Homo sapiens: one gene and its partners. The protein of the gene in region 1 interacts with the protein of each later gene in a biochemical or structural test. Each region holds a gene or a part of one and is shown in the gene's direction. Other genes may lie near its edges. The genes, in order: UBE2E3, CUL4A, HERC4, MARCHF5, RCBTB2, RNF111 and TTC3.

The links.
Region 2: the proteins of UBE2E3 (region 1) and CUL4A form a complex in vitro, tested with the Homo sapiens proteins (one study listed by BioGRID).
Region 3: the proteins of UBE2E3 (region 1) and HERC4 form a complex in vitro, tested with the Homo sapiens proteins (one study listed by BioGRID).
Region 4: the proteins of UBE2E3 (region 1) and MARCHF5 form a complex in vitro, tested with the Homo sapiens proteins (one study listed by BioGRID).
Region 5: the proteins of UBE2E3 (region 1) and RCBTB2 form a complex in vitro, tested with the Homo sapiens proteins (one study listed by BioGRID).
Region 6: the proteins of UBE2E3 (region 1) and RNF111 form a complex in vitro, tested with the Homo sapiens proteins (one study listed by BioGRID).
Region 7: the proteins of UBE2E3 (region 1) and TTC3 form a complex in vitro, tested with the Homo sapiens proteins (one study listed by BioGRID).

The regions. Positions count from the first base shown.
Region 1 is NC_000002.12:181,060,564-181,064,854, forward strand, and holds the end of UBE2E3 (ubiquitin-conjugating enzyme E2 E3), read left to right. Parts: intron 1-101; coding exon 102-249; intron 250-2,227; coding exon 2,228-2,325; 3' UTR 2,326-2,862; downstream 2,863-4,291. UniProt on the Homo sapiens protein: Accepts ubiquitin from the E1 complex and catalyzes its covalent attachment to other proteins. In vitro catalyzes 'Lys-11'- and 'Lys-48'-, as well as 'Lys-63'-linked polyubiquitination.
Region 2 is NC_000013.11:113,257,767-113,262,236, forward strand, and holds part of CUL4A (cullin-4A), read left to right. Parts: intron 1-2,840; coding exon 2,841-2,993; intron 2,994-4,470. UniProt on the Homo sapiens protein: Core component of multiple cullin-RING-based E3 ubiquitin-protein ligase complexes which mediate the ubiquitination of target proteins. As a scaffold protein may contribute to catalysis through positioning of the substrate and the ubiquitin-conjugating enzyme.
Region 3 is NC_000010.11:67,953,284-67,956,783, reverse strand, and holds part of HERC4 (probable E3 ubiquitin-protein ligase HERC4), read left to right. Parts: intron 1-1,653; coding exon 1,654-1,821; intron 1,822-2,045; coding exon 2,046-2,189; intron 2,190-3,500. UniProt on the Homo sapiens protein: Probable E3 ubiquitin-protein ligase involved in either protein trafficking or in the distribution of cellular structures. Required for spermatozoon maturation and fertility, and for the removal of the cytoplasmic droplet of the spermatozoon.
Region 4 is NC_000010.11:92,342,658-92,347,127, forward strand, and holds part of MARCHF5 (E3 ubiquitin-protein ligase MARCHF5), read left to right. Parts: intron 1-4,470. UniProt on the Homo sapiens protein: Mitochondrial E3 ubiquitin-protein ligase that plays a crucial role in the control of mitochondrial morphology by acting as a positive regulator of mitochondrial fission and as an important regulator of immune response.
Region 5 is NC_000013.11:48,494,544-48,499,013, reverse strand, and holds part of RCBTB2 (RCC1 and BTB domain-containing protein 2), read left to right. Parts: intron 1-2,692; coding exon 2,693-2,823; intron 2,824-4,470.
Region 6 is NC_000015.10:59,025,223-59,029,692, forward strand, and holds part of RNF111 (E3 ubiquitin-protein ligase Arkadia), read left to right. Parts: intron 1-4,470. UniProt on the Homo sapiens protein: E3 ubiquitin-protein ligase. Required for mesoderm patterning during embryonic development. Acts as an enhancer of the transcriptional responses of the SMAD2/SMAD3 effectors, which are activated downstream of BMP.
Region 7 is NC_000021.9:37,159,322-37,163,791, forward strand, and holds part of TTC3 (E3 ubiquitin-protein ligase TTC3), read left to right. Parts: intron 1-377; coding exon 378-424; intron 425-1,480; coding exon 1,481-1,537; intron 1,538-2,668; coding exon 2,669-2,742; intron 2,743-4,470. UniProt on the Homo sapiens protein: E3 ubiquitin-protein ligase which catalyzes the formation of 'Lys-48'-polyubiquitin chains. Mediates the ubiquitination and subsequent degradation of phosphorylated Akt (AKT1, AKT2 and AKT3) in the nucleus.

The DNA.
Region 1 (4,291 bases):
TTTAGTATCATCTATGATATATTACCCTTCATTTTTTTTTAGTGTTTTAATTGGTAATACAGCATTCATTTTCCTTCTGTTTTTAATGTGACTGTGCTTAGGTTACTTTCCGCACCAGAATCTATCACTGCAACATCAACAGTCAGGGAGTCATCTGTCTGGACATCCTTAAAGACAACTGGAGTCCCGCTTTGACTATTTCAAAGGTTTTGCTGTCTATTTGTTCCCTTTTGACAGACTGCAACCCTGGTAAGCAAATCTTTATTAACATGTACAATAAGACTACAAAAACGAGTGCTTTTTTTTTTTTTTTTTTTTTTTTTTTAGTTAGCTTTAAATGTAGATTGAGAGGTAAATGTTATTCATAGAAAGATCCCCATAAAACAGTTTGTGAGGAAATTACCAATGCCATTTGAAGTAGACTAGGCCAAAAGTTTCTCAATACCTTCATTTAATTTGTTAATGGCATACCACTCTATAATTATTTTGTCACCATCATTAATGGAATCTCTACTTTTAAAAGTATTTAGGTGCACAGACCACTTCTTTTTTTTTTTTTTTTTTTTTTTTGAGACGGAGTCTCGCTCTGTCGCCCAGGCCGGACTGCGGACTGCAGTGGCGCAATCTCGGCTCACTGCAAGCTCCGCTTCCCGGGTTCACGCCATTCTCCTGCCTCAGCCTCCCGAGTAGCTGGGACTACAGGCGCCCGCCACCGCGCCCGGCTAATTTTTTTGTATTTTTAGTAGAGACGGGGTTTCACCTTGTTAGCCAGGATGGTCTCGATCTCTTGACCTCATGATCCACCCGCCTCGGCCTCCCAAAGTGCTGGGATTACAGGCGTGAGCCACCGCGCCCGGCCGACCACTTCTAACAAGAGTAAAGCAATGTGTCTGAAACCAGTGCCTCCTTTTCCTGCTCCTTCCATGCTGCTGTATGCTTTTAGGCAACTACTTTAATAATAGAAGGCTTCTTGTTCTCCCTTCCTTTTTTAATTAATTAGTTATATAAAGTGTAGTAGTAATGGATATTAAAATGATAGCCAATGAGAATTGAACTAGATTATGATTATATAACCTCAGATAAAATCATTTGTGTATAATTCATAACTTTAAAAAATGCCTGCCACATGTGAACTTCAGAAACTTGGGTAGCTGACTTGATAAAGTGATGTTTAGACCTGAAATTTCACACATTTTGTTTCGTTATGTGACCTTTTTTTTTTTTTTAAGTTGACTTACTTCTAAATATTTGATAAGTCACTAAAGACTGTTACTGTTGTTACCTTATGCTCGGCAGAGATACATATGCAATAGATAGTGACAGATGGATATTCATTGTGGTATCCTTTATTAGAGTATTGGAAACAACCTCAATGCCCATTAATAGATGTAACGTTTAAAAAGAATGTGACAACTCTATATGAACTAATAGGGAAATATCTTCAAGATATATTAAGTATAAAAGGCACTGGAAAAAAATACATATACACAACATAATATTCTAAATGCTTGTCAGTGCATGTAAGAACTCTGGGAAGTAATGTTGTAAATGGGTAACAATTGTTTGCCAGGGAAAGAAACTTCTGAGCAGTTGGAGTCAGGAAGGAAGATAGTTTTTTTTTACTGGCTATGGTTTGGTACAATTCAAATATTGTACCATATGTACATATTTTTTTGTTTTTAAACATCAAAATAAAAATTTATATCAGGTTCACTCTCTAGTTCAGAATTCTACTTAAAACAAAATGGCAAGTAAGTTTTCAAGTGTAAATATTGATAGTGATTAGAGTCATATCAGGCACAGAATGAAGGAAGCATTTTATTTGAAATAGCATGGTATTGTAAGACTGGGGTTTTATTTTAAAATTAACCATTTTTGAACTATTCATAAGCAGAAATATAACCACCTAGTATACTTCCATTTTGAATGAAAGGCCAAAATTACAAAATAGTTTTTGTATATTAAAGACATATCTTTTATAAAAGTCAAATCTAACTTTTTATATATAGCTCAAAATTCATTTTTTTTTTTATGAAGGGGACTTTCCTAACTGGAATATTAAAATATACATATGATCATGTTACTTTAAACTTTTTCTTTTGAAAATTTAGCTATTATATATGAAGATACTGCTGAAAAATAAGCATTTCATTTTAATAGAATATTAGAACTATACCTTGAAGAAGATACCACAAAATAGCTTTTAATGTTCTTTCTGCTTTTCCAGCGGATCCTCTGGTTGGAAGCATAGCCACTCAGTATTTGACCAACAGAGCAGAACACGACAGGATAGCCAGACAGTGGACCAAGAGATACGCAACATAATTCACATAATTTGTATGCAGTGTGAAGGAGCAGAAGGCATCTTCTCACTGTGCTGCAAATCTTTATAGCCTTTACAATACGGACTTCTGTGTATATGTTATACTGATTCTACTCTGCTTTTATCCTTTGGAGCCTGGGAGACTCCCCAAAAAGGTAAATGCTATCAAGAGTAGAACTTTGTAGCTGTAGATTAGTTATGTTTAAAACGCCTACTTGCAAGTCTTGCTTCTTTGGGATATCAAAATGTATTTTGTGATGTACTAAGGATACTGGTCCTGAAGTCTACCAAATATTATAGTGCATTTTAGCCTAATTCATTATCTGTATGAAGTTATAAAAGTAGCTGTAGATGGCTAGGAATTATGTCATTTGTATTAAACCCAGATCTATTTCTGAGTATGTGGTTCATGCTGTTGTGAAAAATGTTTTACCTTTTACCTTTGTCAGTTTGTAATGAGAGGATTTCCTTTTACCCTTTGTAGCTCAGAGAGCACCTGATGTATCATCTCAAACACAATAAACATGCTCCTGAAGGCATAGTTTCCTGTCGTAATATTTTAAGTCAGTCTTGTTAGAAAGTGTGTCTGAGATGATTGTTGATGAAGTAAAAATGTGGCTATGAAGATTACTAAAGACTAGCACAAATAAACCCATTCTTAAATTGAAAACATTTAAAATCCTATTAAATGCATAGAGTTTTTTTCCTTTGTTATTGAAAGAATGACCTTAAATAATCAAAAGTGGATTTTGACCCATTGGTCTCAAACACATAAAGTTGTACTTCGGTAATATGATGTTTAAGCCAAAAAGAATATGAAATCCTGGCTCGCTCACTCAGGAATCTGGTAATGTCTTATGGAACATGTTGCTTCCAAATTGATGATTTTTGTTCAGCACTGGGCAATATTGTCAGATGGTAACTGTGATGTGGTAGCTAGTCTGTGATGCACTTTTTACTTCTAATCCTGGTCTTGAATGTTCATGTTGTGTATTACCATTCTTACTATGGCAAGTGGCCAGCAAATACAGCCAGAGGCAGAGATGAACACAGAAATCTTTGTCTGCCTTGAAGGTAGACTAGAACTGTGTTAGTGTACAGATGTGATATTATTTCTCAATTGGTAAAATACCAAATTGTAAGGTTTTTAGAAGGTTAAATTTCTTCTTTCTAGTTGTAATTCTGAAGTGTTAGATTTCTTGAAAGTTAGAATTTCTTTGCAATATTTAGATTTGCTAAACAGAGTATAATTGTGTGTGGTGGTGGTGTTTTGTTTTGTTTTGTTTCCCTGTGACTAAGGTAATCATCTCTGGTCATGTAACCAAGGTTGTGGTATATGGGGCAGGTGTCTTCTCCAGTCCTCAATATGGAAATGAAGTATCATCTTAAAAATGTATAGAGTGAAAATATTAACATAAAAAATGCTTCCGGATAAAGTAAAACGTGTAGTTGTGTGTGTCACTAGAATAGCAGACTCCTGTTTGTCAGTAGAAGTCTTATATCAGAGTAAAATTAAAATTACACTTACATATCTGTTTTTCACTTAAACTCCCCACCCCCAACATTATTACAGAGGAGCACTATACAAAGGTACTATTTTGAAGAATTCAGACTTTACCTCTGTGAAAACCTAACTAATAATTTATAATGGAGTCCAAGTGAATGTGATGCAAGTGGAGACCGTTTAAGTTGTAAGGTTTTTTATCAACCGTAGTTTTTCCTCCACTGCCAAAATTGTACATTCTACACCCTAGAGTAATAAACTTCTCTCTTGGTGCTAGAAAAACTTAAATCATACTGAATGTTGGGATGTTTGGGGATGCTATGATTAGACTTCCTTTAGTTACCATGAGCCTAATTACCACCGCCAAACTATTTTGCTTACTTGTTGGCTGTGTCCATACTGGTGTGGGATAAAGTGGAGGGAATTGGTTACTTAAAATATTTGCAGCTCTTCCACAAACTACC
Region 2 (4,470 bases), on another chromosome or scaffold:
AAACATTTATACTATGTTATTTTTCTAGAAGTTTTTACATTTAAATCTTTCTTTTCATGTTGCAGAAATTATTTTAGTATCTGAAAACAGTCTAACTGCCCCCATCCTTTCCAAAACCAAATTTAAAATATCATCCTTGAACAAGTTATTTGAATTATCACCTTATTATGTATCAAATTCATATAGGTCAGTTTCTCAATTCTCTTCTATAAATTCTGTGTCTATTTCATAGCCAGCCATTTTTTTTGTTTTGTTTTGTTTTGTTTTTTGAGACAGTGTCGCCCAGGCTGGAGTGCAGTGGTGTGATCATAGCTCACTGCAGCCTCAACCTCTTGGGCTCAAGCGATCCTCCCACCTCAGCCCCAGGCATATGCCACCACGCCCAGCTAAATTTTTGTATTTTTTGTAGAGATGAGGCCTTGCCATGTTACCCAGGCTGGTCTTGAACTCCTGGGCTCAAGCAGTCTTCCTACCTTGACCCCCCAAAGTGCTGGGATTACAGCCGTGAGCCACCGTGCCCGGCACCAGGTTCTTTTAATTAATGTAGCTATTCCTATAACTTTATTCTTCCAATGAACTTGACAATAATTGTATCACGCCTTTGCTCCCCCAAATAAGAACATTGACATTTTTAATCCATATTGCATTAATTTACAGAGCTTTTATCTTTATCATATTAAATCTTGTGATTCATACATATGTGTATATATGTAAATACATACAAATCTTTTTCTCAGAGCTTTCTAGTTTTCTTCTGTAAGTCTTGCATATTTCTTGCTAGTCATAAATTTTCATTCATTCAACAAATACTTATTGAGCATCTGTGGTGGCCCAGGTCCTCTGTGAAGCACTGAGAATTCATCCATTAACAATAAAGAATAAGTCCTTGTTTCTAGGAGTGTTCAGTCTTTTCCAGCAGAGAGGTAGCAGAGGATCACACACATTGACTAACTTGTAAGAGTGGAGGAAAATGTTAGGATAGAGAAGTGCAGGAGAGTCTAATTAAATACTGTCGTCAGCCAACGCTTTCCTGAAGAAGTGACTAGCTTTGCTCAGGAACTGAAAGAAGGCCTCTGGCTGCAGCATCGTTGCCAAAAGGGGAAGCTGAGCCAGACAGGCCTGATCAGGGAGCCACAGCTGGACCCTCTGAAGATGGCTCAGATCCATGAAGCATTTGGAAAACCACTAGAGTTTTAAGCAAGACAGGCTAATGAAATGCTGATATCTTATAAAGGGGACCTTTTTTCTTTACATTTCTGACGGTTTTTATCAGAATGTATGTATTAATGCTATTTGTCTTTGTATATTTATTTTATTTCCAGCCACTTTACAAAACTCTTTAGCTTTGAAAGTTTTTCTGTTGATTTTCTTGGATTTTCCAGCTCATCTACAAATAATGATCGTTTTGTCTGCACCTTTTCAATATACCTCTTTAGTCTGTTCCTGTATTGCATAGTTAGAACCTCTAAAGTAATGTTTTTAAGGAATAGCAGTGCAGCTGAGCTTCCTAATTTTATCTCTAGTTCAGAGGATGTTAACTTTTTGGGGGTCATGGATCCTGTTGAAAATGTGATGAAAGCTTGGAGTCTCTCCCATCCTGAAGCATACTTGCCTCATATGTATGCACAGACCTTCCCCCAGCCCTCATTTCAACTGCAGATCCCCATCAGGTTCCTGTTGGACTAAGGTTAAGTTGTCTCTAGTATTTGCTGTTTGTTTCTGATAACCATGTTTTATCATGTTCAGATGCTTTTTTATTCATCCTTGTATGCTAATGTTTGTTTTAAATCAAAAAATCAATTTTATCATGCCTTTTCAGCATCTATCAAGATGGTCATGTAATCTAACCTTTCAACTGCTACAGTGCTCTCACTTATATTCACAGATTTCCTAATGTTGATCAACACTTAACATTTCTGGAATATATCCTGATGGTCATTATGTTTTGTTTACTGTGCTGCTAGTTTTAATCTACATCACACATAGAGTTGTTGCAGCTTTCTTATAAGGAAAATAACTTTTAAAAATATTTTTTAAGTTTTGGTTTTGGAGTTTTGCTATTCTGGGAAGGTACCTTTTACTACAACAAGTAAACATGCATAATAAAGTAGGATTCATCCAATGTCTGACCTTTCTTTGCATCAAAAGAACATTTCCGGCCAGGCACGGTGGCTCACGCCTGTAATCCCAGCACTTTGGGAGGCCGAGCCAGGTGGATCACGAGGTCAGGAGATCGAGACCAGCCTGGCTAACATGGTGAAACCCTGTCTCTACTAAAAATACAAAAATGAGCCGGGCATGGTGGGGGGGCACCGTAGTCCCAGCTACTTGAGAGGCTGAGACAGGAGAATGGCGTGAACCCGGGGGGCGGAGCTTGTAGTGAGCCGAGATCGCGCCACTGCACTCCAGCCTGGGTGACAGAGTGAGACTCCGTCTCAAAAAAAAAAAAAAAACCATTTCCCATCAAATTCGGTAACATCAGGTCATTAATATTGAAATATAGGCCAGGTGTGGTAGCTCACACCTGTAATCCCAGCACTTTGGGAGGCCAAGGTGGGCGGATCATCTGAGGTCAGGAGTTCAAAACCAGCCTGGCCAACATAGTGAAACCCTGCCTGTACAAAAATACAAAAAGTAGCCGGGCATGACAGCAGGTGCCTGTGATCCCAGCTACTCGGGAGGCTGAGGCAAGAGAATCGCTTGATCCTGGGAGGCGGAGGTTGCAGTGAGCCGAGATCACACCATTGCACTCTAGCCCAGGCAACTGAGTGAGACTCCATCGCAAAAAATAAAAAGAAAATACAGTTTTACACTTAACTTTTTTTTTCTTTTTTATACAGGTTGAGGAACAGGTTAGCACCACTGAGAGAGTGTTTCAGGATAGACAATATCAGATTGATGCTGCTATCGTCAGAATAATGAAGATGAGAAAGACTCTTGGTCATAATCTTCTAGTTTCTGAATTATATAATCAGCTGAAATTTCCAGTAAAGGTAAATGTAACATTAGCATAATTAAATTTGTAGTATTTGCTAAACAATTGACAAAGCATGTTTAATTCTATGTTCAGTCATATCATTTGACCTGCATTATTCATGGTGCTTTGTGTATACACTGAATGTAGAAAAACTGGCAAATGTGAAGCTCTTTATTCCAGGTGTTGCTCATTGCCACTGCAGAAATGATAGAGCCCTAAAACTCTCCTTCCCAGGGATGGTGCGCGCTTGTTCATATTTTCAGGAAGGGAAGAGGTAGATGGGACATGGAAAGCTGAACACTTTTCTCATAGTAGTAGCGGTCAAGGTTACATCACAAGATTTTAAGGAAATGATAACAATAACTAACTTACTCAGCGTTTACAGCCTACACCGCGTTTTCCACCACGGTAATAGTCTACTGTTGCTGTTGCTTATGAAAGTCAGCCCAGGCCTGTCAACCCGCGTTGTTTTCAGAACTGAGATTTACTGTCCTGCCACGTGTGGGATGCAGGATAAGCCGGGAAAGTATTATGAAACGTTTTTTACATGTATTTATCAACCCAGGAAATACTGAACTCTGATGACGCCTGGCCTCTCAGGGACAGGACCGGCCACACGTGCTTTGGAGGGAAAGTCCCCAGATTCCATGTTGTGCAGTTTGAGCCTCCCATTCCATCAAGGGAATAAAGTTGAGATGCACTAAATAGTCGAACACTTAAGAGTCTGGTGGAAGTGCCACTGTCCATCAGCCCACATTTGCCCCCTTCCCTGCAGAGGTGAGGTGCCGTCCTCAGGGCCCTGGGAAGCTCCAAAAGCACCATCAGGTTCACTGCCCCTTCCTCCCACCAGCTGGAGCAAGTCTCCTGTTGCCACTGCAAACAATCAGGCCCAGCGCGAAGCAGAGGTGAGCAAGAGTGGAGTGTGGCAGACCAGGGCACCTGCTCTGCTCTCGGGTAGAGAGTGGCAGACCAGGGCGCCCACTCTGCTCTCAGGGGTAGAGTGTGGCAGACCAGGGCGCCCGCTCTGCTCTCGGGTAGTTGGGTTTTTTTTTTCTTTGAGATGGAGTCTTGCTGTCCCCCAGGATGGAGTGCAGTGGCACGATCTCGGCTCACTGTAACCTCTGCCTCTCGGGTTCAAGCAGTTCTCCTGCCTCAGCCTCCTGAGTAGCTGGGCTTACAGGCACGCGCCACCACACCCAGCTAATTTTTGTATTTTTAGTAGAGACAGGGTTTTACCGTGTGGTCAGGCTGGTCTCAAACTCCTGACCTCGTGATCCGCCTGCCTCAACCTCCCAAAGTGCTGGGATTACAGGCGTGAGCCACCGCGCCCAGCCTCAGCCACATCTTGTAAAATGTGTGGCTTATCACTGAATAGAAGGTGAAGTTTGTTTGGAAAATAGAGGGTCTCCCTTGTATAGGGAGAGCCTTGCACGTAAGTGCTCACACAGATTTTCTTCCTAATACAGCAGAGCTGGAGTGGCTGTTCCCTCTGG
Region 3 (3,500 bases), on another chromosome or scaffold:
GGTACACAAAGTACTTTGGGTAGCTATAAAGAAGACTGCTGCATGTGATATGTATATTCTTATGAGAACATTTATAAAAAAAGGTTGCAGTGAAAATGGAATAACTTAACCTATAATCATTTTATATATTAAAAATTGTATAAGCCTCTTTCATTACAGAAATATTCAATCTTTATAAACCGTTTTACTAGTTTACTTGATAAGATGTTGGTTTGTTTCAAAATCTTGTTTCATTATATGTCCCCTTTTTATATGCTTGGTAAGAGATGGAAGTCACTAGAGGTGAGAGATGTTAAAAGTAGGAAGCATTTGATCTCGTTAGGAAGAAGATGTGAAATTTCCTTGAAGAAAGTTTCAATAATAAGGTATTAAACATGTTCCTGGGGTTGGTCACCATTATCTCCTATTCCTCTTTCTTTTCCCCTTCCTATCACCCTTTCCCATCCATTTTATGTTGAGAGTTCTTTCATTTATAGAGAGGATTTTTTAAACTAATTCATATTATGACTTTAAAGGGTTACAGTAAGTTTGCTTTATCATTTGATCCTGTAAATAAAAAAGATTTTGAGCTGCTTCCTCTGGTATAGAATATCTGACTATACCAACTAAGGATTAAGGAAAGGATGAAAAGAAAGCTTGAATATTTAATAGTCTAAAAATATTTTAAAAAATTAAAAACCTTCAAATCTTGGTAACCATTTTTATTCTGTTCAAATAAATGCATTTGGTATTCTAAATATTTTTGTAGTGTTCTATACTAACAGCTAGTAAGCCAATTTTTTGGAGGTCTTTGTTAAAACGATAAGTTAATAACTTGGTGATTTTACCATGGGATATTCCATTTTAGAACAAGAACTCAGGGAGAACCATAATAAAAGAACAAAAGTTTTAAATGGTAAAAGTCAAATCCTTGGTTCGTGAGCACATACCATGATCACTTAGTTAAGTGAATTTGTGTAATGCTTCCTTAGCCAGATCATTCCTTATTCTTTGTTTTTTATTTTTTATTTTTGAGACGGAGTTTCGCTCTTGTCGCCCAGGCTGTAGTGCAGTGGTACAGTCTCAGCTCACTGGAACCTCTGCCTTCCAGGTTCAAGTGATTCTCCTGCCTCAGCCTCCTGAGTAGCTGGGATTACAGGCACACACCACCACGCCCTGCTAATTTTGCATTTTTAGTAGAGACAGGATTTCACCATGTTGGCCAGGCTGGTCTTGAACTCCTGACCTCAAGTAATCTGCCCTCATTGGCCTCCCGAAGTGCTGGGATTACAGGCGTGAGCCACTGCGCCCAGCCTGTTCCTTATACTCTTTAAAGGTTTGTTTTTGCTCCTCCCTCTTTACCCTCCCCTCCAGTGAATGTTTTTTAGAAAAACCAATGCTCAGATTTATCAGTATTACTACCGTTCTGTACTGGCTTACTCTAATGGTGTTATGAGTTATACATTATACATTAGTATAAAAACATTCAAAAGGGTACTCTTTATGCTCAGTTTATTAAGTTTTATGCTGTACGGGATACTGTTAGGTGCTATGTTAATTCAGTAGCATAGGAATTATAGAATACCTGTAACTAATAGGTAGAGGTTAGCTTGTTTCAGTCACAGTAGCTTTATTGTAGCATTGCTGTTAAAATGTTAATCTTTTGTTTTCCAGATGGCTATTGATCAGGCCCACAGGCAGAATGTCTCCTCTCTTTTTCTCCCAGTGATTGAATCTGTGAATCCCTGCTTAATTCTAGTGGTGCGTAGAGAAAATATTGTAGGAGATGCAATGGAAGTCCTTAGGAAAACAAAGAACATAGATTACAAGAAGCCACTCAAGGTAATTTGACATTTTCTGTGGTATAATTGGGACTTTTATTCAGAAGCTATGTTTAAAATTTTCCTATTTGTTTTTAGTGAATCTTTTAAACTTAATAAATAAAATTATATTTATTTTAAACTATTAATTGTAGAGTATTAGTAATAAATAACATGTTCTAGGGTCTCCAGAATGTACTTTCATTTCTTTACAGTCTATTTGGTGTTTGCATTGTGCTATTTTAGGTTATATTTGTTGGAGAAGATGCTGTGGATGCAGGAGGGGTGCGCAAAGAATTTTTCTTGCTCATCATGAGGGAATTATTGGATCCTAAATACGGCATGTTTAGGTATTATGAAGATTCCAGGCTCATTTGGTTTTCTGATAAGGTAAAATGTCCAACCATCTAAATTACTTCTGTGTATATACCCATGTATTTATACCTGTATGTATCAAGTTAATTCAGTAAATAAGGAATTACTACTGGATCCCTAACATATAAGATCTGCTTTATTACAATTTGAGAAATTATAAACTTTGGACTTGGAGTTGTCAAAATACATTTGATGCTTACCACACATTTTAAATTAACAAAATAAATTAAGAGATGGTTAGCCAGAAAATAATGTTGACTATTCCTTCTGCTGATTTCAATTTGAGGATTGAATAATAATCACCAGATTAACTTTTCTGTTGGGAAAAATTAATTTATCATTAGGGATCATTGATTTATCTACCTTGTCATTTAGAGCAGGTCAGCAGACTATAGCCCATTAATCTCAAAGAAAAAAAAAGTCACACCCACTCTTTTACCTATTGTCCAAGGCTACTTTCATGCTACAATAGCAGCGGCAGAGTTTAAGTAATTACAACAGTGACCTTATGTCCAGGAAACCCCAAAATATTTGCCATCTGGTTCTTTATAGAAAGTTTGCTGACCCAATTTAGTGATCATAAGTGAAAAGGATGGATCAGTTTAGTAGAACTCCTGACTTGAAAGAAATTTAGATAGAATAGCTATTGGTTGTAAAAACCTCAATGTAATATTTAATCATTCTGCCTGGAGGTTGGCTGTCTTGTGTAATGTTAGCAGCTTAGTGCCTAGACTCTAATTCATCAGGGGTTGCAAAATGGTGTGCTACTCTAATATTTCTTTTTCATTTATTAGCTTGGATACTTCTGTATAGAGAAATTTCCTCACGTTTTCTGATTCCTTAGTAGTGCAATTCATAGGAAAGGATTCTATTTAGTTACCAATTTTTCAAAAGAATGAATTGGTTCATTAGCATAGTCCACTGGTAATAATTCATTTTTTGTGTTTTGCTTTCAAGTATCATTAGGTATTCATAGGTTTAAACATACTTGATGTTTTTCAATTCACTGCAGTTATTGTCTTCATTGATGCTCATATTGTCCCATCTTTGTTCAAGGAGAGCTCTTAAGGTTGGTGCCCAAGTCCTTTTGAAACAACCTATATACTTTTTGGTACCTTCCTTGCTACCTTGTGTACTTACTATGACAGAATGTTCCAGACTTATCTTACACATTTACTGCCTAACAGTACCAACATTACCACCAATATTATGATTACTAAAATGTTTTAAATTGTTTTTCAGTTCTTTTTGTACAAAGAGTATACCCTAATATAGATAGACAGCCAGATAATATAGTTTTGATATAATTTAAAATTGTTATACTCT
Region 4 (4,470 bases), on another chromosome or scaffold:
TAAAATAGTACCTTCAAAATCTTACTCCCCAGCTTAACATCTCCATTGCCTTAAGTAGTAGTCTTCAAGAGCAGCATCTAGATTGGTTAAGTGTTTCCTAAGTAACTCTGTAGTAGTGAACACACTTAGGTTTGTAGATGATATAATTTGCTTTTCTTTAATATAAATTAGAATTTACATGAACAAAAAAGGAATGCTTGGAATTTTACCTAATATTCCAGGAACTGCATATGTATCTATGCCAGGGTCAAACCTTTATGGCTTGCTCCATTAATGGTCATGGTGAGACAGAGTATTATGAGACTTCCTTATAAAATGATGATGACATCCCAAAAATATGGATACAGTTAAATGAATCACAAACAGTGAAACATATCTGACATGAGTGTAGTGAATAAAGTTTGAGAACCACTGACTTGAACTTTAGCATGATTTGATACACAGGGTCCTCTGTAATCGTACTTCGTTCTGCTTTAAGGCTGTTGGGCTGTCTCCTCCAACCCATCCTTATGTTGTGTAGTTTTTCACCTCTGTCCTTTGGCTTACGTCACCTTCCCAACCTAATACCTGCCCTTCTAGTCTTCTGTGTACTTATCCAAATCTAAACCCTCCTTCCAGGCTTAGCTAGCTTTCCTCCATAGAACTTACAGGCAACTCCTGCCTGCTGTGATTCCTTCTTCCCCCACATTCATGACATTTTTATTCCTCAAATGGCAGCTAGTCCTGCCCTGATGAAGTGACATTTCTTATATAGATTATCTGTTTAACTTTTCTTGTTTTTAGGCCTTATTTTTCCTGTTAGGAGGTAATTTCCTTGAAAGCAGAGTCCATTTTATGCTTCTGTATTCCCTGTTACAGCATCTACATAGAAACTAACACATTAAAGGGTTTCATAAATCTTTGTGGTTTTGTTTTTTGTTTTTTTGTTTGAGACAGAGTTTCGCTCTTGTTGTCCAGGCTGGAGTACGGTGGCGTGATCTCAGCTCACCGCAACCTCCGCTTTCCGGGTTCAAGCGATTCTCCTGCCTCAGCCTCCCGAGTAGCTGGGATTACAGGCATGTGCCACCACGCCCAGCTAATTTTGTCTTTTTAGTAGAGATGGGGTTTCACCATGTTGGTCAGGCTGGTCTGGAACTCCTGACCTTAGATGATCTGCCTGCCTCTGCTTCCCAAAGTGCTGGGATTACAGGTGTGAGCCACTGCACCCGGCAGTCTTTATGTTTTTTATGTGACCACTTCAAATAATGAGTATTAGTACATCACCTGAGGAGGGAGGATCAGGATGATTTACTAAGACTGAGAAAGACATAGAAACTTAGAGCAGATTATACATTATTTAATGTACAAATACATTATATAGATATATATATTTTGCAAATGAGATTGAGTTATTTTCTTAAGACTTTATTGACCATAAGAAGTGAGATGGCTCTTTTTTAAGAAAGATTTTTAGGCTGGCACAATGTTAAAAGAATTTTGATAATTAATGGGGCACTTGTTAAAACACAAATAAATTGAAAACTCTGATCCCCAGCATCAAGGGATATAGTCCAAGACAAGACGTTCATAAATGAAACCACTGGAGAACAGTTACAGGTTAGATAGATAAATGTGATAAGAGGGCAGAAGACTATATAAACAATATTTTAATTCAGTAAAAGTGAAAGATAATTTGATTTGAAATTATGAGAAAAGTCTTGAGCTAACCCTTAAAGGAAATAATTTGAATTGGTAGAATGAAATAAGCAAGGAAGCAAAAACTATAGTACACATATGTGTTACCATTTAGAAATAACCTTCACATGTAATGTCTCACTTGAAAAGATTTTTTTTTTTTAGCCCAGAAATGAGACTAGCTATGACAGTAGGTGGATAGTGTTGTGTGATTTAAGAGTATTGGGAAGATGACTTTTACCTTCCTGAGCACATATGATAGAGAATGTGCCCCTCTACACCATCAGTAGTATTTAGGGTTTGCCTTCTAACACTTGATTGTTTTTCTCTGATTCCTTAACAACCCTGCAGTACAAGTAAACCAAATCAAGGAATCAGATCACTGTTATTTTCCCATTTATTTTCTTTCCTTCTCCATGGACCTGTCATAGAATCAATACTTTTTAGTTGTGGGGAACTTGAATAGGACCTTCCTCTTGCATTTTTATTGAAAAGACAACACAATAATTTTTTTTTCTCGGCACTGTATTGAACACCTAGCACTGATGCATTTAACCCTTGCAACAATTTTATGACATAGATTATTGTTATAAATTATTCCTAGTTTACTGGTTTAGAGAGTTTACAGGTCCAGTGCCACACAGCAGAGAAGCATTAGGACTCCTGTCCCTTGGCTCCTTAAGTGAAGCCTGGTCCCAGAGGCAGCTGGAACATTTTATCCTGGAACAGTGGAACCTTAATATGTTTAGCCTAGTTCCCATTTTTGCCTCTAGTGCAAAGACAGCCCCCATTAGCATTGCCCATTCTTAATTACAGTACTTACTTATCCTTGATTCTGAGTTAAAAAAAAAAAAACCCTGTTATTTCATCACTGTTTCATCCTCTTGTTAGGATTCTGGCCAGGTGCTGTAGCTCATGCCTGTAATCCCAGCACGTTGGGAAGCTGAGGCAGGCAGAACCCTTGAGGCCAGGAGTTGGAGACCAGCCTGGTCAACATGATGAAACCCCATCTCTACCAAAAATACAAAGAAAAAATTAGGCATAGTGGCTGTATTCCCAGCTACTCCGGATGCTGAGGCGTGAGAATCGCTTGAACCTGGGAGGCAGAGGTTGTAGTGAGCCAAGATTGCACTCCAGCCTGGGCGACAGAGCAAGACTCTGTCTCTAATTAATTAATGTAGAATTCTAATAATAATTTAAAAGCTCAGACCTTAATTAAAACTGTTAGCCTTTCAGCAGCAATGAACTGCAGGCCTACCTAGATATGAAAATCTAGCTTTTAGCCCTTCTGCAGGAAAAACAAAAAATTATTTTTCTCTAAACCTGCAATTCTATAGGTCTTTTGTTTTTCTCTTTTTTTTTTTTCTTTTTTTTTTTTTTGAGACAGAGTCTCATTCTGTTACCCAGGCTGGAATGCAGTGGCGCAGTCACGGCTCACTGCATCCTCGAACTCCCTGGGCTCAGGTGATCCTCCCACCTCAGCCTCCTGCACAGCTGGGACTACATACACATGCCACCACGCCCTGCTAATTTTTGTATTTTTTGTAGAGACAGGGTTTCACCATGTTGCCCAGTCTCAAACTCCTAGACTCAAGTTACCCACCTACCTCAGCCTCCCAAAGTGCTTGGATTACAGGCGTGAGCCACTGTGCCCAGCCAGGCCTTTATTTTATACATAGATAACAAATTCTTAGACATTCTATATAATTCCTGGAGCTTACCCCAAAATCGAAGTCTTAAAAATAATGTTTTTAAATCTTGGGACAAGAAAGCAGAATGTATGTGATTACACACAGGTTCACTGACTTTGTATTGGCCAAAATTAAATCAGGCCTATTGCTTAATCACCTTTCATTTATTGCCCCTGAGTATGACTGTTTTAGCAAGTGGTGTACTGCAGGTGTTATACTACCTTATTTCTTCACAGTGTATATATTTGCACACTTGTTTGGTTTGATTTTCTCTCACTTTCAAAAGACATCTGTTTAACCTGCCATTTTAGCCCCAGCACAAAATCATTATTCAGTGAATGAATGAATGCATGTGTGAATGATGAGCCTCATCCCACTTCTAACTTGCTTGAGCATGGGGCATCTCTCTTCACTTTAGTTGTAACAAGTGAAATACTGGGCCTTTGCTCATTCTTTGCCCTATTTCCTTCTTTTTTTTTTTTTTTTTTTTTTTGAGATGGAGTTTCACTCTTGTTGCTCAGGCTGGTGCAATCTCGGCTCACTGCAACCTCCACCTCTTGGGTTCAAGCGATTCTCCTGCTTCAGCCTCCCGAGTAGTTGGGATTACAGATGACCACCACCACGCCTGGCTTGTATTTTTAATAGAAACGGGGTTCCACCATGTTGGTCAGGCTGGTCTCAAACTCCTGACCTCAGGTGATCCGCCTGCCTCAGCCTCCCAAAGTGCTAGGATTACAATTGTGAGTCACAGTGCCCAACCCCTACTTCCTTTTTGTTTCCTTATTCTTAAACACCTTATAAGGTTTTTACTGCTACCCATGAGAAACAAACTTCCTCTTGTTCGCTCTAGTCTATACCTGAATATTCACTCTTCTTTATATTTCTAAACCCAAAAAAAGGACACATAACCCGACAAAGGATTTTTTCAAATATTCTGAATTTATTTGCTAACACTTTGAGAATATTTAATCATATTTAGTTATAATGTTAGAGTGATCATTATATTGAAATTTTTAATGATATAAAAATAGAATTTCTTAGCCAGACGTGGTGGCACTCATCTGTAGTTCCAGCTACTCAGGAGGGTGAGGTGGGAAGATTGCTT
Region 5 (4,470 bases), on another chromosome or scaffold:
GATGATGGTCTCCTGGGTTGGGGTTGTATAGCAGTGGAAGTATTGAAAAGAGATCAGATTCTAGATATATTTTAAAGAGGTTGCTGATGGGATTTGTTGATAGATGGGATGAGAGGTGTGAGTTGAGAGAGAAGGATGGCTGCACTGAGGTACTTGGCCTGGGTAGCTGCCTTAATGGCACTGAGGTGAGGAAGATAGAGAACAACAGGCTTGCTCTGGACTTTGAAAGTCAAAGGAGTTTGAGCTTCCCATTAGATACCCAAGTGATAATTTTTTTTTTTTTGAGACAGAGTTTCACTCTTGTTGCCCAGGCTGGAGTGCAATGGCACGATCTCCGCTCACCACAACCTCCGCCTCCCGGTTTCAAGCGATTCTCCTGCCTCAGCCTCTCGAGTAGCTGGGATTACAGGCATGCACCACCACGCCTGGCTAATTTTGTATTTTTAGTAGAAACGAGGTTTCTCCGTGTTGGTCAGGCTGGTCTTGAACTCCCGACCTCAGGTGATCCGCCCATCTTGGCCTCCCAAAGTGCTGGGATTACAGGCGTGAGCCACTGCGCCCGGCCGCGAGTGGCAGTTTTTTATCGGCCCACCACTAACATTTGTGGGGCTGTAGCCAAGACTCCAAATGGAGACCTATGTTCCATATGTCTAAAAACTTAAAGTTATATGTCAAGCTAGTGAACTTCAGATAAAAATATGTCCAATCCTCCCACCTTGAAAAATGTAATTTCATTAAGAACTGAAAGGACAGGTTTCAATTTTAGTTGACATTTAGAGTTGCAGGACTTCTTGTGCCAGAACCCAATGGCACAGGCAGGACAGACCCCTCCTCCAGCAGAAGGGTGTGTGGGCACCCTAGCTTGCATTCCAAGCTCTATCCACCCCCAACCCAGGTTACCCTTTTGGGCCAGGGGGTCTGCACATTGGTGGTGGGGTCTAAGGGAGGAAATACCCACACATGTGGCCTCAAGGCCAATTATGCAGGCAGTCCCAGGTTCCCAGGTACCCAAAGTGTGGTCTAGAAGTGGGCATGTGGCTCCTTAGCCACCCTGTGCTGAAGGTGTGCGTGGAGGAGGCGCAGAGCTGGGGCTTGGGGCAGAGTCCTCTCTTAGGGCAGTGCAGCTTGCATGTGTGTCTGAAGCTTGGGGCCAAAAACAATGAAGCCATTCACAACTCAAGATTTCAGTGTCCTCCAGTGGGCTATCTGTCTTTCCTCTATAACTTTGATAATATTTGTTATTAAAAAAGCAAGTTTCCAACCAAAGTCTACCACATGTATAAGATTTATTAGCAGATAGACACAAAAACAATTAATATGGTAAAATTGATGAAATCCCTGCTCTTTATACTTCGTACACTCTATTAAGTACCTTGCATGAAAAGTTAGCTTGAGGTGGACATGACAGTGTTCTAGTAGCCGGATTCAGCTAGCCTTTTGATCCTGGCTACCACTCATTTCAGCAATGACAAACTAATTCTGACATTCTTTATGCTAATTACAAATCCTGTAATGAAGATTCAGAAAAACAAATAGGATCTTTCAGATGCTGATTGACTGCTTCAATTAGAGTACTTCCTATCATTCCTTGGGGTAGATTAAAATTAATTTACATATGTCACCTCACCCAGTCTACGTTGAATTACTTGAAAATAGGTGACAGGTAATATAACAGGACTCACCTGCATATATAGATGATATTTAAAACCCTGGGGCTGGGGTTTTGGGAAGTAAGTGAGGAAAGTGTCTGAGGATTTAACCCTGGGGCACTCAAACATTTGGAAGTCAGGAAAAATGATCCAGCCTAGAGAACTGAGGAGCAACTAATTAAAGAGAAGAAAAATGCAAGCAAGTGACAAAGTGTCCTAAGGAGAGCATTATCAACCATATCAAATTCTGTGTAAATGTCGAGTAAGAGGAAACCAGAGAATATTGCACCCTCAAAGCCACTGTGACTGCCACAGGTGTGACCACCAAGGGTGTGACTGCAGTAGTGGTGGGGATGGGGTTCTGCTTGTAATGGCTTGAGGTCAGAATGGGAGGTGGGAAAATGGAGACAGCAGATACAGATAGCTCTGTCTAGGAGTTTTGCTGTAGAGAGGAGCAGTGGGATAGGGTAACAGGAGGAAGACACGTGTCCATGAAAGGGTCTCCCCTCCCCTCCTCTCCCCTCTCCTCCTCTCCCCTCCCCTCCTCTCCCCTCCCCTCCTCTCCCCTCCCCTCTTCTCTTCTCCCCTCCCTTCCCCTCCCCTCCCTCTCCTGTCCTCTCTTCTTTTCTTCTCTTTTGTTTTCTTTTCTTCTTTTCTTTTCTTTCTTTTCACGGCGGGCACTCTTACAGCATGTGTGTGTGCTCCTGGGAGTGGCCCAGGAGAAGCTGACATTGAGATTGCAGGGGAAGGGGTCATTCAAGGCGCACATGCTTTTTTCCTAGGAAAAAAATATTAAAGCTATTTTCCCTGTGCTCCTGTTTTTCAACAGCTAATGATTTGTGTATCATGTTTGCTCAGCTTGGCTGCCATCCTGGGTAGAGCCCCACACTGAAGTGTAAGTGTCAGTCAGCATCAGTCTATGCAGTGCTTCACTGAGGATTATATCTAAAATAGTGTCAAAATCATCTCTGAGTGGCTGAGTGAGCAACTGTAAATCAGGATGCTTGAAATCACTCCCCCTAATAAACACCTCTTTCCGCCAGGACTGCTAGACTTGGCTACATTTTATAGAGAAAATCGTTTGAAAAAGCTCTGCCAACAAACTATCAAGCAAGGCATCTGCGAGGAGAATGCCATCGCTCTGCTCTCGGCTGCGGTGAAGTATGATGCACAGGTAAGGAAAGCTTGCTTCCAGCTGCCGGCCTCCTGGAGAAATGGAACCCAGGTGTCTGCCTCGTACCTTAAACTAAAAGAAAGTCTGGGTAGAGGAAATATTTAATATTTTTTAAAAAATGAAGTAACAAGAGTACTAGACAACGTATAAGCAAGTATTTATATAATGTTGGGATGGACATCAAAGGCAGAAGCCATAAAGGATTTATAGCTCTGATTTAAAAAGATAAGAAACTTTTATCCACTTAAAAATACCATAGAGAAACTTACAAAGTAATGAGACACTGGGAAAAATACTTGCAACATATAATGAAGTCTGTTTACCAGAGTGAAAAACAAAAAGACAATAGGAACAGTTTGGTTGAAAGAAATGGACCAAAGAACAAATGGCTCTATAAATAGACAAAAAACATAAATGAAAACAAGGTATAACTTTTCACCTGTCAAAGCAGGAATATATTTTTAGAGATAATGTATAGGATCAGAATAATGGTGTTCTCCTAAACTGCTGATGAGAGTACAAATTGGTATGGAGAACAATTTGGTATAATATGTATTAAGCACCTTAAATTAAAGACATAATTCTTCAAGGAATTCACTCACAAGTATTTATCTTGAGGAATTAATCATGGATTTGCACAAAGACTTAGCTTCAAAGGTGTTTACTTCAGCAGTTTATAATTTTGAAAAATCAGAAAAAGGTTAGTGTGAATAGTGGAGGCTTGTTTATAAAATGTTAATATCAAGAAATTATGCAGCTATTCAAGATATATCACTAAGTGAAAAACTTATCCTATTTTTATTTTTTGAAAAAGTATAAATAGCTGAATAAAAAACTAAAATTCATTATCTACATAGAAAAAAAGACTGAAAACTATGCTTAGTGGTTATCATTGAATGGTGGGATTGTGGGTGATTTTTATTTTCTTCTCTTTGCTTATTTTTTTTTAACTTTTACAGTGACCATGTATTGTTATGATAATAAAGAAAGGAAAGAAAACCAATCTTAGAACCAAATCTTTAGGAAACAGGCTGTAACATCTTCGAGTCAGTTTCCTTTTGGTATAAGGATATCCTCTCCTTTGGTCAAAGAAAACAGAGACATTTTAGTAGATGAAAGGTTATAACTTTTTTTCTGTTTACATAAATAATACTATGCTTATTAAAGAAAATTTGTAAAAGACAAAAAGTGAGGAAGGTAATGACTCATCAACCAGAGAACATTAGCACTTTCATATAACAGCTTCTGAGTTTTTGTTTTATGTCACATTATATATTTGTAAATACTTGAAACCTAGATTTTTTTTCACTTAACATTAAAAAAAAAGTACTACCTCAAAACAATGACATTTAACAGCACAGTGAATGTTTTATATCAAGGCAATAACATATTGGGCACTTACAACACAGAATGTTTCATGGTCAGACAAAATCCATGCACTTTTCCTAGTCCATTCTTGAGCATCACAGTGATGAGCCACGGTGATGGAGGGCCATCTCAGATGTCAAGATGGTGGCACGTGGTGTTTGCATCTGAATCAGGCTTCATTTTTAATACTTTTTTATATTCTCTATTTATGTGAATTATTTGTCTGGCTACCTTCCAGCTCTCTGTTTTCTAGAAAGTAAGCTCTTTGAGGCATGGCAG
Region 6 (4,470 bases), on another chromosome or scaffold:
GTGAGTATAACTTTCTCCTTTCTACTAGGAAAGGTAATAAGTTTATCAAGGGTCCCACTCTTCTTTTCATAATTGAGTACATTATTAGGTTGTGTACTCCTAGCAGAAATCTCTTGAGAAATTTTAGTACGAGCTAATGCACTTGAGGGTCCATAGTGATACTTTTGAGGGAAAATACCTTTCTTGCTAATGAAATTTTGGCTATTTAGAATATGTAACAAAGCATATTGTCTGTATTATCTAGATATGAGTAGTAGTAGTTATAGGTAGTAGAAGAGAATATTCTTTCAGGCATTTGATTTAATATACTTAAGCTGGCACATAGTAAAATAAATAAGAGAATTAAAAATTTAATACACACCCCAAGTGATATCCCTGTAGTACAGGTATTATTTTTTTCACTTAATTATATTAAAAAGATAGTTAAATGGTAGACATATTTCTAGTTGATTTTCTGATAATCTCTAAAACTTTTGTAGAAAAATGCCAAGTCATCTATGGCTTTTTTTTTTTCTTTTTTCTTTTGTGTCGGAATTTTGCTCTTGTCTCCCAGGCTGGAGTGCAATGGCGCGATCTCGGCTCACCGCAACCGCTGCCTTGCGGATTCAAGCGATTCTCCTGCCTCAGCCTCCCGAGTAGCTGGGATTACAGGCATGTGCCACCACGCCTGGCTAACTTTGCATTTTTGGTGGAGACGGGTTTTTTCCATGTTGGTCAGGCTGGTCTCGAACTCCCAACCTCAGGTGATCTGCCTGCCTTAGCCGCCCAAAGTGCTGGGATTACAGGCGTGAGCCACTGTGCCCGGCCGGCTTTTTTTTTTTCTTTTAAAATCTTATTTCTTTAGAGTCATGTAAGCAATCATTACATTTTTATTTAAAGTTGAAACAAGTATTCATATTTATAATTGGTGGTGAAGCATCATACCAATAATAGTGTATCACAGTTTAGAAGTAGAGTTCCTCAGAGTTGTATGGATAGTCTTAATGGGTTTTTCCTCCTTTTGCTCACATAAACTTGTTTATGATGTGAATTACTAAATCCCAACCCTAATTTTTAGTTTTGAAAGTTAGTATTTTTTTTTAGCTATCGTATTTTCTTAGTGCAAGGTTTACTAATAGTGGTGTATTCTACACTAGTATCAGGAGTAATTAGCATGCAGTCATCATGACATAGCAATGAAATGATTGGATCGATCTACACAAAGAGGGACTAGTATTATGGTTTCAGTATTGAAACAGTGTGTAACAGCAAGCCATTTATAATGTCACCAAGGAGATATATCTTGTACGCATTTGCCTCCTTTGTAAATTAGATCAGCCAATAATTTTTACAAAAATAAAAGACTAGAATATGGTTTTATCAAACAGCAAATAATTTAGAATATTATCTGTTATATTTGCTGCTTTTTAAGTTAAATGCAATACTTGTGTTTATTTCCTTTTGAACTTTCCTCTTCTAAGTTCAAAATACAGCCTGATACAATTACAGGGATGGATTTTAGAAAAAAAAATTTAGAACATGATACAATACAGCGATGGATTTTAGAAAAAAAAATAGTATGAATTACTCCCTGGGTGGGAACCTCTTAGTTATATGGGATATTAATTTTGCATTTAATGACTGCATGATATGTTAACTCAGAGAAGAGTTAACTGGTGTACAAACACACACCACAGCATACACCAAACCACCCCCCCTTGCTCTCCTCTACCCTTGTCTCATTGGACAGACTAAACTGATCAAAAATCAGAGCAGATTTAACCATAAAGAGTTGATTGCATTGTTTTGGCTTTGGGACATGAAATGATGGAAAAGAAATTGGGTTTAGTTAATTGTGCTGTGAATTGCTTCTTTGTAAATTAATGTATGGCTGCATGTTCTCAGAATTTGTCTGGTTTTTGGCAAGTTTTCATTGCTTCTCATGATCTCCATTATCAACATGAGGACTTAGTAATTACGGATGAGGAGTCTAATTTTTAAATCTTCAGCCCATAAAGACTCCAAGATCTCCTCCTCTGAAATCCACCAGAACATAACTCTGACATGGGTTTCTGGAAGAACCCCAGCTGTTTCCAACATACATCATGAGACTTCTGTTGCTGATGGAGTCTCTGATGCCTAGAAATCTTGATACTTTTCCTCTTGACTTTTTCACTTTTTTTAAACCTCTTGACTTTCTGGCAGGAGTTTTATTGAGATTTTATTTCACTGGGTTTTTAGTATATTCACAGAGTTGAATAGCTGGCACCACAATCAGTTGTAGAACATTTTCAGTTCACTGAAAATAAAAGAAATTCTATACCTTTTTTTCTTTTTTTTTTTGGGAGACAGAGTCTTGCTCTGTTGCCCAGGCTGGAGTGCAATGGCGCAATCTCGGCTCACTGCAACCTATGTCTCCTGGGTTCAAGCGATTCTGCTGCGTCAGCCTCCTGAGTAGCTGGGATTACAGGTGCCTGCCACCATGCCTGGCTAATTTTTGTATTTTTAGTAAGACAGGGTTTCTTTTCACCATGTTGGTCAGGCTGGTCTCAAACTCCTAACCTCAGGTGATCCACCCGCTTCAGCCTCCCAAAGTGGTGGGATTACAGGCGTGAGCCACTGCACCTGGCCCACCTTTTTTTTTTTTTTTCCCCACTCTTGTTGTCCAAGCTGGAGTGCAGTGGTGTGATCTCAGCTCACTACAACCTCTGCCTCCCTGGTTCAAGCAATTCTCCTGCCTCAGCCTCCTGAGTAGCTGGGATTACAGGTGCACGCCACCATGCCCGGATAATTTTTTGTATTTTTAGTAGAGATGGGGTTTCACCATGTTGGCCAGGCTGGCCTCGAACTCCTGACCTCAGGTGATCTGCCCGCCTCGGCCTCCCAAAGTGTAGGGTTTGGCCACCGCGCCTGGCCAGAAACTCCATGCTTTTCGGCCATCATAGTTGAATCCTCCGATGATCCCCAGCCCTAGGTAACCACATTCTATCTATGTAGATTTGCCTATTCCAGACATTCCATATAAAGGGAATCTTACATTATGTTATCTTTTTGACTGGTTTCTTTTACTTAGCATATTGTTTATCCATGTTGTAGCTTGAGTCAGTATGGTAGTCTGCGCCCCTGTCCAAGGGGAAACCATTCTGAGTCCCCCAGTGGATGCCTGAAACCATATAGTGTTTTTTTTTTCATATACCTACATGCCTATGATAAAGTTTAATTTATAAATTAGGCAGAATAAGAGACTAACAACAACAATAAAGTAGCAAAATTCTAACAACATACTGTGATAAAACTTATGTGAATGTGGTCTCTCTCTCATAGTGTGAGTAACTGAAGCTGTGGAAAGTTAAACTGGATAGTGAGGGACTACCGTACTTCATTTCTTTCTATTGCTGAGTAATAATCTTTTGTATGGATTTATTTATTCATCAGTTGATTGGCATTTGTGTTCCCACTTTTTTGGCTGTTATGACTAATGTTGCTGTTTATAAGTTTTTTTATGAATATGTGTTTTCATTTCTCTTGGGTACATACCTAGGAGTGGAAATGCTAGGTCACATAGCAATTTTGTGTTTAATTTTTTTTTTTTTCTTGAGATAGAGTCTTGCTCTGTTGCTCAAGCTGGACTGTAGCGGTGCAGTCCCAGCTCACTGTAACCTCTGCCTCCCAGGTTCAAGCGATTCTCATGCTTCAGCCTCCCAAGTAGCTGGGATTACAGTCAGTGCGCCACTATCCTGGCTAATTTTTGTATTTTTAGTAGAGATGGGGTTTCACCATGTTGGCCAGGCTGATCTCGAACTCCTGGCCTCCAGTGATCCGCCCGCCTTGGCCTCCCAAAGTGGTGGGATTACAGACATGAGCCACCGCGCCCAGCTTGTATTTAATTTTTGAGGATCTGCTAGACCGCTTCCCAAAGTAGCTTGTATCATTTTACATTTCCATCAGCAATATATGAGGGTTCCAATGTTTTTTTTTTATGCATCCTCTCTAACACTTGTTATTACCTGTGTTCTTTATTACAGCCATCCTGTTTGGCCCCATTCAACTCTTAGATCACATGTACCTGTGTTTTATCATTGTGACTTCTGTGTTCTTGCCTTTAATTAAAGTGATCCTTGTCTGACTGGCTGCCTTCTGTAATTTGCTCATTGCCATGCTCATGTTCACTCATCTTTGTATTCCTGGTTTATCACTGATCCTGCTGAACTACAGATAGCGCGTGATGGCTGATCTTGGATACAGCACTGCCTGTGCTTGTGAATAAGAATAAAAGAAGATAGTGGTTTTGATAGCTTTCTGTAGGAATAGGTCATTCTATGCCTTAATTATTGTCATTTGTTCTGATAGTAAAGTTATATACTATAGTAACATGGGAGACCTGTAAGATTATATATTTCTGTAACCCATTTGTAGAGAGGGAAAATACTTGCTTACTAAACAGCTGTTGTACTCGCTTTTTAGGAACTGGTTTCAAAATGTATTTTATGG
Region 7 (4,470 bases), on another chromosome or scaffold:
TGCCTTGTGTTTCACGTGGTCCTTAGCACGCTGGGTTACAGGAGTTTGTCTGTTTGTCTTTCTGGCAGTAGAACAGGAGTTCATCAATGGTAGGGACTGTCTTGTGCATCTCTATTCCCAGGACTAGCATAGATGGTACCTAGAAGGCACTCAACATTATGCTGAATCAGATTGAAGTTTTATGGTTCTTTGTAGTTGGTTTCCCGTTTAGTCAGCCATTTTGCCCTTGGTTTCTAAACTACACTTGTGTCAAAGCCAAATAAGGAATAGAACATGGCCTATGCCAGTAGTATGAGGAGTTATTTTAAGGCTTTAGTGTACTATATGGAAATGTAAATATTTAGTTTTCTCACAAAACCATCTGTATATTCCTACAGACAGCCGCTGTACTGTGTTAAGGAAACAAGATAGTGGTGAAGCACCGGTAAGTTACTTGGATCACTTGAATCTTACGTTCTAATCTGATGTTAAACCAAGGATGAGAAGGGGACCCAGGCCAGTGTTTATTGACATCACAGCCAGCATTCAAGAACCACATTAAAAGGACGTCTGGGTAGTACGTACTATTATTCATTAGAAAGTCACTGCCAGTTTTCCTCTCGGAATTGGAGCAATAATCAGCAAACTATGAGGCTTAAATTAGACAATTTCTATAAAGTTTCAGAGCTGATAAACATTAATATTCTAATTAAGAAAGGAAGAGTTCTTCATCTCCTGGCATAAAAATGAAAAGTTGTCTTTAATAACTAAACTTCTAATGTTCTGCTCTAGAAGGAAAACAAAGGGACTTTGTTTTGAGTGGCTCTAAATTACGTTTAAGTTAAAACAGTTCCAGAGTTGTCTTCCTTAGTAGTTTGCAGTTGCCTTTTATTCATTCTTCAGAAATTCTTCAGTTTAGGAAAGTGAGTAAATAGAGAAAAGCACAACATTGTGGCAGTTTTCAAAGAGAAAAATGCCTGTTTACTGATTTTCAGGAGCAAATCATCTATCTATATGAAATTTTGTCTTAATCTGCTCCATCAAATATTGCCCAGCTAAGCAGGGAAACACAGCTGAAATACTCCATAAGGAGCTGAAGGCTTCTTTATTCACTGTTTGTGCCCCAGTGTCTGGTCAGGTGCAGAATGTCTAGTTTGGCTTAGTAAAAGAAATATATTAATAATAAATTTACTATTATGGCATCTAACTGGAATTACTTAAAAGTCTGATTAATTACTTGAAATAACAGTCCAACCCTGTGGAAAATAAGATAAAAATGTTGGAACAACTTAATTTTAGTATACATTAGTATTATTAAATTTTGTTTGTTTTCTATTATAAATCGTAGCACTTGGGCTGATACACTGTAGTGTTATTTTTGTTAAACATTTTATGTACATTTAACTTATGGCTAGTCTGTAAAAACTCATATGGTTTCTTTATGTTGAGCTTCATAATGCTGTTATTTGAGTGTTCACTGATTTTTCCCCCCATTTTTTAGTTTAGTTCAACCAAGGTGAAAAACAAAAGCAAGAAAAAGAAGCCAAAGGATTCAAAGGTATGGAGTATTTTCTGTATTAATTCTTGTCTAAACTCTCCAAAATAGTTAGTTGGACATATACATTAGAATTGAGCAATTCTTGGGATATTTTGAAACATTTGTAGAGAAAGACTTTCTAGGACTTAAAGATGTTTTGGCAGTCTTCTACATTTTGAAGAAATTCCAGGTTCATATTATATAATAGCAAGTCTTGACACTCGTATTCTTTATTGTCTTTTTTATTTTTCTAGGTATTTCTGAGTAAAAAAAAAAAATTGTCATAATGTCCCAAAAAATAAATAAGTCTCAAAAAATAGATAACATATTTAAACTAAAAATGATGAATACTAATCATTATGACAGTCCCAGGATTGATAGAATCCCTTCCTTCCTCTCACCAAAGGCTCTCCTCCAAGCCCATTAGATAAGTAGGGCATTTTTATTTTTATTTTTGAGACAGGGTCTCCTTCTCTCACCCAGGCTGGAGAGCAGTGGTACAGTGACGGCTCACTGCAGCCTCAAACTCCCAGGCTCAAGTGATCTTCCCACCTCAGCCTCCCGAGTAGCCGGAATGACAGGCGCATGCCACCATGCCCAGCTAATTTTTTGTATTTTTTGGAGAGATGGGGTTTTGCTATATTGCCCAGGCTGTTCTAGAACTCCTGCGTTCAAGCGATCTGCCTACTTTGGCCTTACAGGCGTGAGCCACTGTGCCAGAAGTAGGGCACAATTTTTAAGTCTTTGGTGGGTTCTTCATGGCTCTTGTGTGTATGTGGGGAGCAGAAAGGGGGATGGAGTGAGAGAGAGTAGCAAATCTTCAAAGGATGAGAACAGTTAAGGAGTTCCAATACAACTTTTATTTTTATCTTTGACTATGTATTTAGTTTAGATAAAATGGGAGTTTAAACTGAGTAACATTTAAATTTTTTTGGAGCATTGGAAACTATCCTAAATGTTAATTTGAGCTTATTTTTGGCTGTTGAAACTTTTATTACTATGTGTTCCTGTTTATAAGAAAATTTGGATAGATCTTATATATCAGCAATTTGTATGTGTGTTTATATAAGTATTCATCAATTTTAATGATTTTTCTCTTTAATGGAATTTTAAGGTAGAAAATCATTGTCATTTTTCTGTCTTTTAAACCAGCCTATGTTAGTTGGGTCTGGAACAACTTCAGTAACTTCAAATAATGAGATCATCACTTCAAGTGAAGACCATAGGTAAGTATAATTTTTAAATTTTTGCTTCATTTTAACTCAAATGTCTTTACTTAATAAGTTGTGTTAATTTAATATATATAAACTTGTGTTTTATTTCCCTAACTTTCCTTTCTAAAGCTGTGCATCTGACAACCTGATGTAATTCCATCTTGATTACATTTATATAGTGTGGCTAGAAGGCATTAAGAATTCATTCAAACTGTGTTAAAGTCACGACACTGGTGACATTCATTCACTAAGTACATATTGAGAACCTACCATGTGCAAGGCTCTGTGGGAAAATCATAGAAAAATGTCTAGAAATTATTCTTTAAAATAGTCAATAAAGAGAATGTCCTGTTAATACTTACTAGGCATTTTTGCCTGTAAGAGAGGAAGCTGTTTTGGGAGCTGTATATGATGTTATGTTTTCACCTTATATATTAGTGATTTTCAATGCCATCTGGTTGTCAAAACTGAGTTTTCAATAAACAAATATTTAAGAAATAAAACTAGTGAGTAGCAGTAACCTTTTTATATCATACTCCTTTATGAACCAAAAATGTACAACATGGTTTTTTTTTTCTCATTTCTTAAAGGAGCTATCAGAGCAGTTAAAAATTACGTGGTCATTTCATGGATTCTTTAAGTAGGGTAATTGTTTTAAGTTAAAATAATAGCCTGTCTTAGTCAGTTTGGGCTGCTATAACAATATACCATAAACTGGGAGGCTTACACACAGAAATTTATTTCTCACAGTTCTGGAGGCTGGGAAGTCCCAAGATCAAGGTACTGGCAGATTCAGTGTTTGGTGAGGGCCTGCTTTCTGGTTCATAGATGGTGCCTTTTTGCTGTGTTTTCTCATGGTGGAAGGGACAAGGCAACTCTCTGGGGCCTCTTTTATAAGGGCAATAAGTCCATTCATGGGGGTAGAGCCTAATTACCTCCCAAAGAATCCACATCCTAACACCATCACATTGGTGATTAGGTTTCAACATATGAGTTTTGCAGAAACACAAACATTCAGACCATAGCATAGCCTTTACTGAGATTAATTCTTATGTATCAGACATTGTTTTGGGGGTTTACATACATAAACTCTTTCAATCCACTTATCCTGCCTAGGAGGTAAGTGCTATTATATTCTGTCCAATGTACAGATAAGGAAACTCTGAGGCACAGTGCAGAGCGACTTGCCCAAGAACACAAAGCTTATAAATAGCAGAGCTGGGATTTAAGTCATGCAGCCTGGTTTTAGAGTCCACACTCAAACTACTACATCTTTTTAGAGTGCTAACATCTTACATTTAAAAAAAACTTTTGTTTAGATGGAGTTTCGCTCTTGTTGCCCAGGCTGGAGCGCAATGGCGTGATCTCAGCTCACTGCAACCTCCACTTCTTGGGTTCAAGCAATTCTCCTGCCTCAGCCTCCTGAGTAGCTGGGATTACAGCCATGCGCCATGACGCCTGGCTAATTTTGTATTTTTATTAGGGACGGGGTTTTTCCATGTTGATCAGGCTGATCTCGAACTCCTGACCTCAAGTGATCTGCCTGCCTTGGCCTCCCAAAGTGCTGGGATTACAGGCGTGAGCCACCACACCTGGCTTAAAAAAAACCTTTTATTAATACCATTTACCAGTCTCAGTCTCACTTTAAGTTAATTTATAGCAGTTATAATACAATCTTCATTTGTCTTTCAGTCATTTAACAAGTTATAATTAATGCAACTTTTTTTAAAAATATGGAGT